Linked DNA regions of Homo sapiens. The protein of the gene in region 1 purifies or fractionates together with the protein of each later gene. This does not show direct contact. Each region holds a gene or a part of one and is shown in the gene's direction. Other genes may lie near its edges.

Region 1 (2,539 bases):
CATGGAGGTCTGGCATGGCTTAGTGATCGCGGTGGTGTCCCTCTTCCTGCAGGCCTGCTTCCTCACCGCCATCAACTACCTGCTCAGCAGGCACATGGGTAACTGGCTCAGCATCCTCTTCCCTCCTAGTCACTCTCAGAGACCATTCTCGAGCCTCCAGCAGGACAAGACCCCTTTGGAGTTCCCAAACGTCACTCAAAAACCTACCAGAGGACCCACCGGCCAAATTCCTTCCCACCGCTCCCCCTCCCCCCAATAACTGTATCTGGGTAATCCCCACTCTGACCTCACCTTTTAACCAACTATTTCTGGCTGGAAGTGGCCATCCACATCCGTCTACTACCCAGACCTTCTGCCTAGACACAGCTTTTGCAATGCCTACGAGGAAGTGCTCGTGTAACCTGGTCTAATTAATTTTCTTCATCCCTGTTAAAGGACTGAATATGAAGAAATGTCCTTGAATTACAACAGAAGGAAATATGGTTGGACTTAGAGATTAGTTTAAATTCTTGAACTGATAAACAATAGAAGGTAGTGAAGCTCGGTCCTGGAAAGGCATTTCAATTAGGGAAAATAAAACAATGCTGCTTTGGTTGTGCTAAGAGAAAGGACGGGGCAAGATGATGTTTTGAGGGTCTTTCTAGTTAAGTCTACCTTCATTCATTCATTTGTTCATTCATTCATTCAGCAGATATTTCTTGAGCATCTAAGACACTCTCTGGGCCTAGGCTACACAACAGGGAACAAAACAAAAATTCCTACCCCCGGAATCTTTCATTCCATGTGACAACAAACAAGATAAACAAGTAAAACATGTATATGCTAGATTATGGTAAGTGCTAGGGAGGAAAAATGGAACAAGGGAGTTGATACAGCTTGGTGGATGGCTGGCATCCCCAAAAGGCTAACCTTTGAGTATAAACTTGCAGGGAGTGAGGCGTGAACTCTACCTGCAAAGGCCTGAAGGAGGAACGTGTTAGGCACATGCTAGCAAGAGCAAAGAGGCTGGGCAGCTGGAGCAGGCAGAGAGAAGCAGGAGAAAGCCAGAGAGGAAGGAGGAGTGAGGCCTCGGAGGCTGGGACTTGGCTTTTTCCAAGTGAGGCGTGGAACCATGGCAGGGTTTTGAGCACAGCAGTGCTGAGGTTTGAAGGGATCTTTCTGAAAGGTTTGCTTTACTGAGGGCAGTGTTCAACAGGCGCTGATTCAAGAGCCGATGTGCCTAACCCAGGCAGCTTCCACTTTTTTTTTTTTTTGAGATGGAGTCTCACTCTGTCCCCCAGGCTTGAGTGCAGTGGCACAGTCTCGGCTCGCTGCAACCTCTGCCTCCCAGGTTCAAGCAGTTCTCTTGCCTCAGCCTCCCTAGTATCTGACATTACCGGCACGCATCATCATGCCCAACTAATTTTTGTATTTTTAGTAGAGATGGGGTTTCACCATGTTGACCAGGCTGGTCTCGAACTTGTGACCTCAAGTGATCCATTTACCTCAGCCTCCCAAATTGCTGGGATTACAGGCATGAGCTACTGCGCCTGGCCAGTTTCCACTTTTGATCCCTGCCCTCTCCCTTCCAGCCCACAAGAGTGAACAGATACTGAAAGCGGCCAGTCTCCAGGTTCCCAGGCCCAGCCCTGGCCACCATCATCCACCTGCTGTCAAAGAGATGAAGGAGACTCAGACAGAGAGAGACATCCCAATGTCTGATTCCCTTTACAGGCGTGAGTAAGGGGTTGGAGGGAGAACTTGTCTAGGGACTAACTTTGCTCTCTCTGGACACCCAGGACCTCCCTGCAGCAACCCCATGGGCCCAAACCTCTAGCCTGAGGATTCCTCACAGCCACATCAGGACAGCCTTGCCAGCCTACTTTTTTTCAGAAAGGTGTTTTATTCTATTTCGTGGGGAAGATCATTCTGAGTTTGTGTGGGTCTAAGTTCTTTCCCGGGTTTAGTCGTGTGCAAATGATTGCAGGCGGCTTGGGAAATGTCCCTGCTCTTCTCTTTGTAAAGCCATGGCATCTTTTCTTCGGATTGATCAGCTAATGGTGGAGTTAAAATTTCACCTGCCTCTGCCTGCCTCCACCGTGGCTGCTGCTATGTCAGTGTTATTGGCTGGCTCTGTAGCTGGCTCCTCCATAGTCCCTAGAGGGACCCTTTTTCATGGTCTTAGATCTGCATGGGTATCTGAGTGTATAAATGTGAATCTTGCTGCTGGTTCAAATCTATATCACCCTCCTGCAAGTGAGCCAATAGGTCACTATTCACAGTGGAAGTGGCTGCTTTGGCAACAAGGCAACTCCCTGATAGGGGCTCACTCACCAGAGATTGCACTTCTTCCACTGGTTTGTCTCTTGATTGGTTTGAATTTGCTCTGTCCTGATTTTATCTTTTCAGTTGAGACATGGCCTCAGTGCCTGCCTGTGGGGACCTGAGGGTGCTGCTCATATGCATGTTTCAACAGAACTGGAGAGGCACTGGCCTTACCCTAACCCCTGGCCCCAAAGCTTCACCAGAGCCTGGCTAGAATCAGAGATTGTTTAGCTGT
Region 2 (3,651 bases), on another chromosome or scaffold:
TCCTAACCGGATCAAGCCTGCCCACCACTTCTAAACCTGGAAGCCTCTCCCCACCCTCACATATCAGATCCGGTGGGTGGAAGGGGCTCATGGGAACAGGGCGGGTAGGGCAAGGACAGACAGGCTGGTATCCCACAGGTGTTCTGTGTGGGGCTCTGGTGCCTGGATGAGTACTGGTACTACAGCGTCTTTACGCTATCCATGCTGGTGGCGTTCGAGGCCTCGCTGGTGCAGCAGCAGATGCGGAACATGTCGGAGATCCGGAAGATGGGCAACAAGCCCCACATGATCCAGGTGTGGCTGCCAGGGAGACCCAGGTTGGGGGTGCAGCACAGGTGCGGCTTCTGTGCTGACACCCATGCCCCGCCCAGGTCTACCGAAGCCGCAAGTGGAGGCCCATTGCCAGTGATGAGATCGTACCAGGGGACATCGTCTCCATCGGTGAGGCCGGGTTCCGCTCAGTCCCAGTGGGAGCCCCAGCCTCAGGGCCTCTGGCCAACCCTCCTGCCTCTGCCCTGCAGGCCGCTCCCCACAGGAGAACCTGGTGCCATGTGACGTGCTTCTGCTGCGAGGCCGCTGCATCGTAGACGAGGCCATGCTCACGGGGGAGTCCGTGCCACAGATGAAGGTACTTGGTGGAGGATGGGGATCCTCAAGCTGTTCAGGAGGAAACAGGCCAGGAGGTGGAGGCCCAGGGGGTGGCGGGGATCCCCCTCAGGCACAGGCGGAGGAGGCAGTGTGGGCACAGATGAGCTCTGTGGACTGGGGAGCCGGGTGGTGGGGGCGAGGAAGGAGGTGAGAGAGCCAAGGGCATCCAGGGTACATTGGTGCCCTGGGATGTCAGACCAAGGTGGGCTGGGAGCAGTCCAGAGGGGTGAGTCCCAGACGAGGCCAAGTGCAGGCCCCAGAGAGCAGGCACTGTGAGTGCAATGGGGAGAAGACAGGACGGGGTGAGGGTGAGGATCTGGGAGCTGGGTGGGATGTATTGGTCGGGTGGGGATCCCCCTGGCTCATTCCAGCCTCAAGGTCCAGCTGTCCAGGAACTCAGATGGAGAAGGAAGCAAGGTAGGCCTGGCCATCCAGATTCACGATCTTCCTCCCCAGGAGCCCATCGAAGACCTCAGCCCAGACCGGGTGCTGGACCTCCAGGCTGATTCCCGGCTGCACGTCATCTTCGGGGGCACCAAGGTGGTGCAGCACATCCCCCCACAGAAAGCCACCACGGGCCTGAAGCGTAGGTGCCTCATGGGCGTCTGGGGGTATCTGGGCTTCCACCCCCTTTGCCCGTCTGCTTGATCATGAGGGAGTCAGGACGAGGAGACAGGCATGACGGTGACTCTGCTTCTCTCCCCAGCGGTTGACAGCGGGTGCGTGGCCTACGTCCTGCGGACCGGATTCAACACATCCCAGGTGCGGGGCCAGGTCTGGGGAGGGCGGGCCCCAGGGCAGTTGGACAGCCAAGGTATCAGCCCTTTCCGACCCCAGAACATCTGCCCCACGGGCTGACTCTGGCAGCACGGCCCTGGACCTGGGCCAGGGTGCAGAGGCCACCCCAAGACCAGGCCCACGCTTCCAGGCCTGAGCTGCTGGAGGGAGTCCAGACAGCAGAAAGGCTGTTCCTCCATTCCTCCAGGGCAAGCTGCTGCGCACCATCCTCTTCGGGGTCAAGAGGGTGACTGCGAACAACCTGGAGACCTTCATCTTCATCCTCTTCCTCCTGGTGTTTGCCATCGCTGCAGCTGCCTATGTATGGATTGAAGGTAAGCGCCACGGCCTCTGTGGTCCCCTGCGCCCACCCTCCGAGGCTCCAGGTTGGCAGGCCCTGTCTCCACAGGTACCAAGGACCCCAGCCGGAACCGCTACAAGCTGTTTCTGGAGTGCACCCTGATCCTCACCTCGGTCGTGCCTCCTGAGCTGCCCATCGAGCTGTCCCTGGCCGTCAACACCTCCCTCATCGCCCTGGCCAAGCTCTGTGAGTGTGTCAAATGGGATGGGGTGCCGAGTGGGCTGGGGCCAAGCAGGACCCCTGACCTCACTCCCGCCCCTAGACATGTACTGCACAGAGCCCTTCCGGATCCCCTTTGCTGGCAAGGTCGAGGTGTGCTGCTTTGACAAGACGGGGACGTTGACCAGTGACAGCCTGGTGGTGCGCGGTGTGGCCGGGCTGAGGTAAGCATCAGGGGCCCTGCAGCAAAGGTCACCCAGATGGGGTTTCTGGGAAGTCGAGAGACAGGTGGCCCATCCACCCCAAGCCCTTGCAGTGAGGGCCCGTCAGAGGCCCTGCCTCGGGTTCATTTCCAGGGGCTCCCCACAAAGTCCTGGGTGTCAGCCATGGTAGCGGCACGGGGGCTCAGCTCAGGCCTGGAACATCCCACACCAGCCATGCACCACATGACCCCCAGGCACAATGCCTGGCTTCTGGGGGCATCTGTGAAGCAGGTGCAGGTCTCATAAAGACCCAGTTGGCGCCCAAGCCACCCCAGTGACAAGCACGGAATGAATGGCCTTGGGGGTCCTTCTGCTGGTGGGGATGCAGCTTCGCCCTACCCGCCTGCACTCTGTAACCAGCTGTTCCCCGACCTTGCAGAGACGGGAAGGAGGTGACCCCAGTGTCCAGCATCCCTGTAGAAACACACCGGGCCCTGGCCTCGTGCCACTCGCTCATGCAGCTGGACGACGGCACCCTCGTGGGTGACCCTCTAGAGAAGGCCATGCTGACGGCCGTGGACTGGACGCTGACCAAAGGTGAGGGGCTGGGGCCTCAGGCCCAGCAAGGGGGAGCCACTGGCTCTCACAGCCCTAGGCAGGTGGGCTGCACCCCTCAGAGCATCTTGGGGACAGGCAGGCCTACAGCTCTGATGCTCCCCGAGGTGGGTGGCCAGAGGCTCACTTTAGACCCAGGATAGGCCACGTCCTTGGGTGTCCCTCTGGGTTGGAATCTGCCCTGCCCTGGCCGAAGCCACAGTGCCAGGGTCCTCCAAGCCCAGGTCTTCCAGCTCTGGACCAACACCTGCTCTAGCCCAGAGCCCCGATCAGGCCCTGGGGGAGGCAGGAGGGAGGTGGGGGAGGCCGGGGTGAGAGGTAGGGGCTTGGCTGCCTCTTTGGAGCAAAGCCCCTCAGGACTCGTACTTATTTGTTTCCAGATGAGAAAGTATTCCCCCGAAGTATTAAAACTCAGGGGCTGAAAATTCACCAGCGCTTTCATTTTGCCAGTGCCCTGAAGCGAATGTCCGTGCTTGCCTCGTATGAGAAGCTGGGCTCCACCGACCTCTGCTACATCGCGGCCGTGAAGGGGGCCCCCGAAACTCTGCACTCCATGGTGAGCTGGCCCCAGCCTGGGGCAAGGGGTGGGGGCGCGGGGCAGCCCGTGACATCCCCCTGCATTCCCTGCAGTTCTCCCAGTGCCCGCCCGACTACCACCACATCCACACCGAGATCTCCCGGGAAGGAGCCCGCGTCCTGGCGCTGGGGTACAAGGAGCTGGGACACCTCACTCACCAGCAGGTACGGGCCCAGGCTCCCCCTGCCTTCACCATGTGCCTGGCCCGTCAGCTCCTCCCTGAGTCACCTCCTGTGTCCCACAGTGCCAGGTTGAATGGTTGTGATTTTGTCCTCCTTGCCCCGCCTCCAGCTTCTACCTTTGGAGACTCC
Region 3 (3,651 bases), about 44 Mb from region 1:
ATCCTTGGGTAAAAACAATTACGTAAGATGTAGCTGGATTAATAGGTGGGTCTTCTTGGCATCTTTCACACATTTGAAATAGACCAAGTATAGCAAGCTTGGTTTCTCTACGCGGGGGGGGGCTGATTTCAGTTTCCAGCACGAGGTCAGCTCTTACTTGTTCTGTCAGACTCTATTGCCACCAAACTGCAAGGCTTCTGTCTGTCTTTATTAAACTACCAGCAGTCCCCAGAATTCCAGTGAGTAAAACTATGACCTCAGCCTTTCAGGTGGGAATAGTTTCCTTCTCTCGGAGAGCATCCAAATCCTCCTATGTTGTTCCTGGATAAAAATCTAAGGATAAAGACAGTTTCTTGCAGACAAGTGTACCCTTGATGTCACTTGTTGCACTATTTATGTCGTCCCCCCCCCACCACCCCCATTTCTTCCCACAGACTAGTCTAGTTCTGCTGTTGCCATGGGGACCAGGCTTAGGTTTCCTTCACAGTGTCCTGATTTGGTCTAAGACCGCAAGACCTCTCCCAGCCTCACCCTAAATTGGTTCTGAGCTGGTCTCAAAGGGGCCCGCCCTGACCTTAAAGGTATATGGGCAAAGGTGGTATTCAACCAACTCTTAAGTATTTCCGGGTTAGACCTCAGTGGGTAAGTAGTGAATACCCAAGTCCCTCTGACCGCTCTTCCGACCCAGCATGAGGCTTGCCTGGCTGCACTAGCTTCCTGCTTTTAGGTGGACCAGAAGTTCAAGGGTGTGAATGAGAGTATAGCTAAGCCTCGAAGCGAAGCTGGGATGTAGCTGGCACCTGCATGGCCATGGGCTGGGCCGACATAGTCTCAGAACTGATCTGGGCACTGTGGCTGATTGGCAAGTGTTAAGTAGGCCAGGTCTATTCACAGTTTGCCAATTCCCAGCCTTTTTCCTGAGGAAAGTGTTAGTACAGTTCAGTATTGCTATTTAAAGATTTCTCCTCTACCTGCTGCCACTTCTGTTTGTTCAGGAACAAGGAATTGGTTATTTATGCTTCGCAATCATGTATGCTGTAGTTAGAGGAACAGTGCTAACAAAACTCCGCATCCCCACCCCAGGCCCTCTATTTAGCATATGTCCCTGTGGCTTCTCCCAGTCCCCAGCACGCTGGCATGCACTGCCCAAGTCCCTGCCATGTGCATGCTGAGACAGCGGCGCCTGCCTCTGCTTCTGTGTCCAGTGTGTGGTGGGGCAAATTGCTCTGGTTCTCTCCACTGCCATTTCCATGTGCCTGCTACTCCCTAACTTCAGCCTGGCCCTGCCCTCACTTCTGATGGAGGAGCTGGAGTCCAGGCAAGTAAGCTGGAGAGTGAGGGCGCCAATGGTCTGGTGTGGCTGGGTGGGTTGAGGGTGGGTTTCAGAGTTTGGGAAAGCAGTGTAGAGCTGGAGGGTGCAGGGCTGAACTTTTGTGTGTCATGATGAGGCCAGAGTGCAGAGCTGGACATCTGAGCCCTGGCACTCGGGACGTGGCCGTAGTGTCACATCACTCTGTGCCACATCACTGACTTAGTATGTAAGTACAACATTCATTGCCAAAGACAACACAGTTCTGCAAAGGAGACACTAATTTGTACCTTTCCAGAAAGAAATATGGTCTACTTTTACAAAAGGGGCTTAATTCTTTGAAAGAAAAGCATGCTAAATACAAAAAAAAAATCCCATCTGGTGGGGAGGAGGTGGTGCTCTCTGCCCCTGTTGTATGAATGGGGAAACAAAGCACAGAGGGCTGTAGCAGACTGCCCAAACCAAGGTTTCACGTAACGCTGCCTCGTTTCAGTGCTTCAAGTTCGAGCCTACATAGTTATAAAATGCTGCACCTCAAAGTTAAAAGAAGTCCAGGCTATTTTGTCTCAGTATGGCCTGGTTTGGGTTCTCCTGCAGCACAGCCTGCCACAGCTTGAGGTTTGAGCCTTATGCCCAGTACCACTTTTGACAGCTGCAGAAGCAGAGGGCTCATTAGTGCTGGCTCAGGCAGTAGCAGCAGTGGGTGCTCACATATTCACAGGACTTGAAAATACCTGAAATAGTGTAACTGGGTTTACAGAGGTAAAACTCTTATTTAATCTGGTACAAGGAGCATTTTCTCATGGCACTTGGTGCCAATGGATCTGCGATGGGAAGCATTTGAGTCAAAGGTCTTCTTCTAGGTATTGCTGGTACTCCACCATTGAACTTGGGTACCTGCAAAAAAAGCTTTCAATTTTTTTCCTGGCTTCTGTAAGAGGGGACTTTTCCTTCACCCTCAATTCTAATTCTGACTTCACAATGGGGAACTGAGAGTTTTCTTCAATGAGCCATTAACAAATTGCCTCCAGTACTGACCACAATGTCAACCTGGATGTAGAATTATCAACTGTCTCAGCCTCAAGCCAGTCCTCTCGGTTGACAGATGGAGAAACTGAGGTCCAGAGAGAAGTGAGTTGTCTACAACTGCCTAGGGAGTACCCAACAGACAAGCACTCCAGCTCCTGGTCTGGTGCATTCAAATGGCCTGTCCTGTTGGGATGTTCAGACTGGAAAGCAGGAAACTGACTCTGGGCTGGGCATGGTGGCTCACACCTGTAGTCCCAGCACTTTGGGAGGCCGAGGCAGGTGGATCACTTGAGGTCAGGAGTTTGAGACCAGCCCGGCCAACATGGGGAAACCCCGTCTCTACTAAAAATACAAAAATTAGCTAGGTGTGGTGGCGGGCGCCAGTAATTCCAGCTGTTTGGGAGGATGAGGCAGGAGAATCGCTTGAACCCAGGAGGGAGAGGTTGCAGTGAGCTGAGATCATTCCACTGCACTCCAGCCTGGGTGACAGAGTGAGTCTCAAAAAAAAAAAAAAAAGAAGAAAAAAGAAAGAAAGAAAAGAAAAGAAAAGAAACTGACTCTGCAGTATGTGTGCAGAGAGCCCTCAATAAGTGCCAGTTAGAGGTATGCAGGATTCTCTACTTTCTTTGTTTATATCTGCTGAAAGACTTTGTTCCACATTTCTCTCTGGTTGGTTTGGTTCCAAAGAAAATGGAAGATGAATAATTTAGTAATTTTATTTGCTCAGTAGGTTCCTTTCGATGCCACTCTTTGTTGGGATAAGTAACGGTACTCATAAGTGCAAGATTAAGCTTACCCTTCTCTGAGGCTTATCTGTGGGCTTCCCATAGCAGTTGTCCTGTTCCTTAGAACCAAATAGATTTGGGGGACCCCCAGCTGAAATTTCTCCATGCCTCCCTTTCCAAAGAGGAGAAAACCTTAATAGCCACCCACCATCTGACATCCAGATTACAATATTATTGACATTTCTTTCCCTGTTGAGTGGATATAGGAAGAAACAAACTCAGTTTCTTCCTGCTATACTGTCACAACATACTTCTATGACCAAATGTATGGGGCTTTTTCCCACACACCAAGCAAGCAAGCAGTTCTGCAGAGGGCACACAGTGTCCTCTAACTCAGTTTGATTCTGATACTATCTACCTGGAAACAGCATCAGATCCCACAGTTTGAGGGCTCAATCCCACAAGACTTTCCCCCATTTCAGACACCAATCACAAGTAATAGTTTGTCACCTACACCTCTGACCAAGTGGCTATAAATTGGTGTTCCCACTACCCTCTCCTTGGACTCAACTGATTTGCTAGAGCAAC

The links.
Region 2: the proteins of RHEX (region 1) and ATP13A1 purify together in Homo sapiens (affinity purification with mass spectrometry; one large-scale study listed by BioGRID and IntAct). This does not show direct contact.
Region 3: the proteins of RHEX (region 1) and NOS1AP purify together in Homo sapiens (affinity purification with mass spectrometry; 2 studies listed by BioGRID and IntAct, with this or other methods). This does not show direct contact.

What each region holds. Positions count from the first base shown.
Region 1 is NC_000001.11:206,098,084-206,100,622, forward strand, and holds part of RHEX (regulator of hemoglobinization and erythroid cell expansion protein), read left to right. Parts: coding exon 1-98; intron 99-1,571; coding exon 1,572-1,715; intron 1,716-2,539. UniProt on the Homo sapiens protein: Acts as a signaling transduction factor of the EPO-EPOR signaling pathway promoting erythroid cell differentiation.
Region 2 is NC_000019.10:19,653,637-19,657,287, reverse strand, and holds part of ATP13A1 (endoplasmic reticulum transmembrane helix translocase), read left to right. Parts: intron 1-138; coding exon 139-294; intron 295-371; coding exon 372-441; intron 442-521; coding exon 522-628; intron 629-1,104; coding exon 1,105-1,234; intron 1,235-1,354; coding exon 1,355-1,410; intron 1,411-1,633; coding exon 1,634-1,760; intron 1,761-1,834; coding exon 1,835-1,972; intron 1,973-2,048; coding exon 2,049-2,169; intron 2,170-2,587; coding exon 2,588-2,745; intron 2,746-3,143; coding exon 3,144-3,319; intron 3,320-3,393; coding exon 3,394-3,504; intron 3,505-3,651. UniProt on the Homo sapiens protein: Endoplasmic reticulum translocase required to remove mitochondrial transmembrane proteins mistargeted to the endoplasmic reticulum.
Region 3 is NC_000001.11:162,359,607-162,363,257, forward strand, and holds part of NOS1AP (carboxyl-terminal PDZ ligand of neuronal nitric oxide synthase protein), read left to right. Parts: intron 1-3,376; exon of another isoform or gene 3,377-3,651. UniProt on the Homo sapiens protein: Adapter protein involved in neuronal nitric-oxide (NO) synthesis regulation via its association with nNOS/NOS1. The complex formed with NOS1 and synapsins is necessary for specific NO and synapsin functions at a presynaptic level.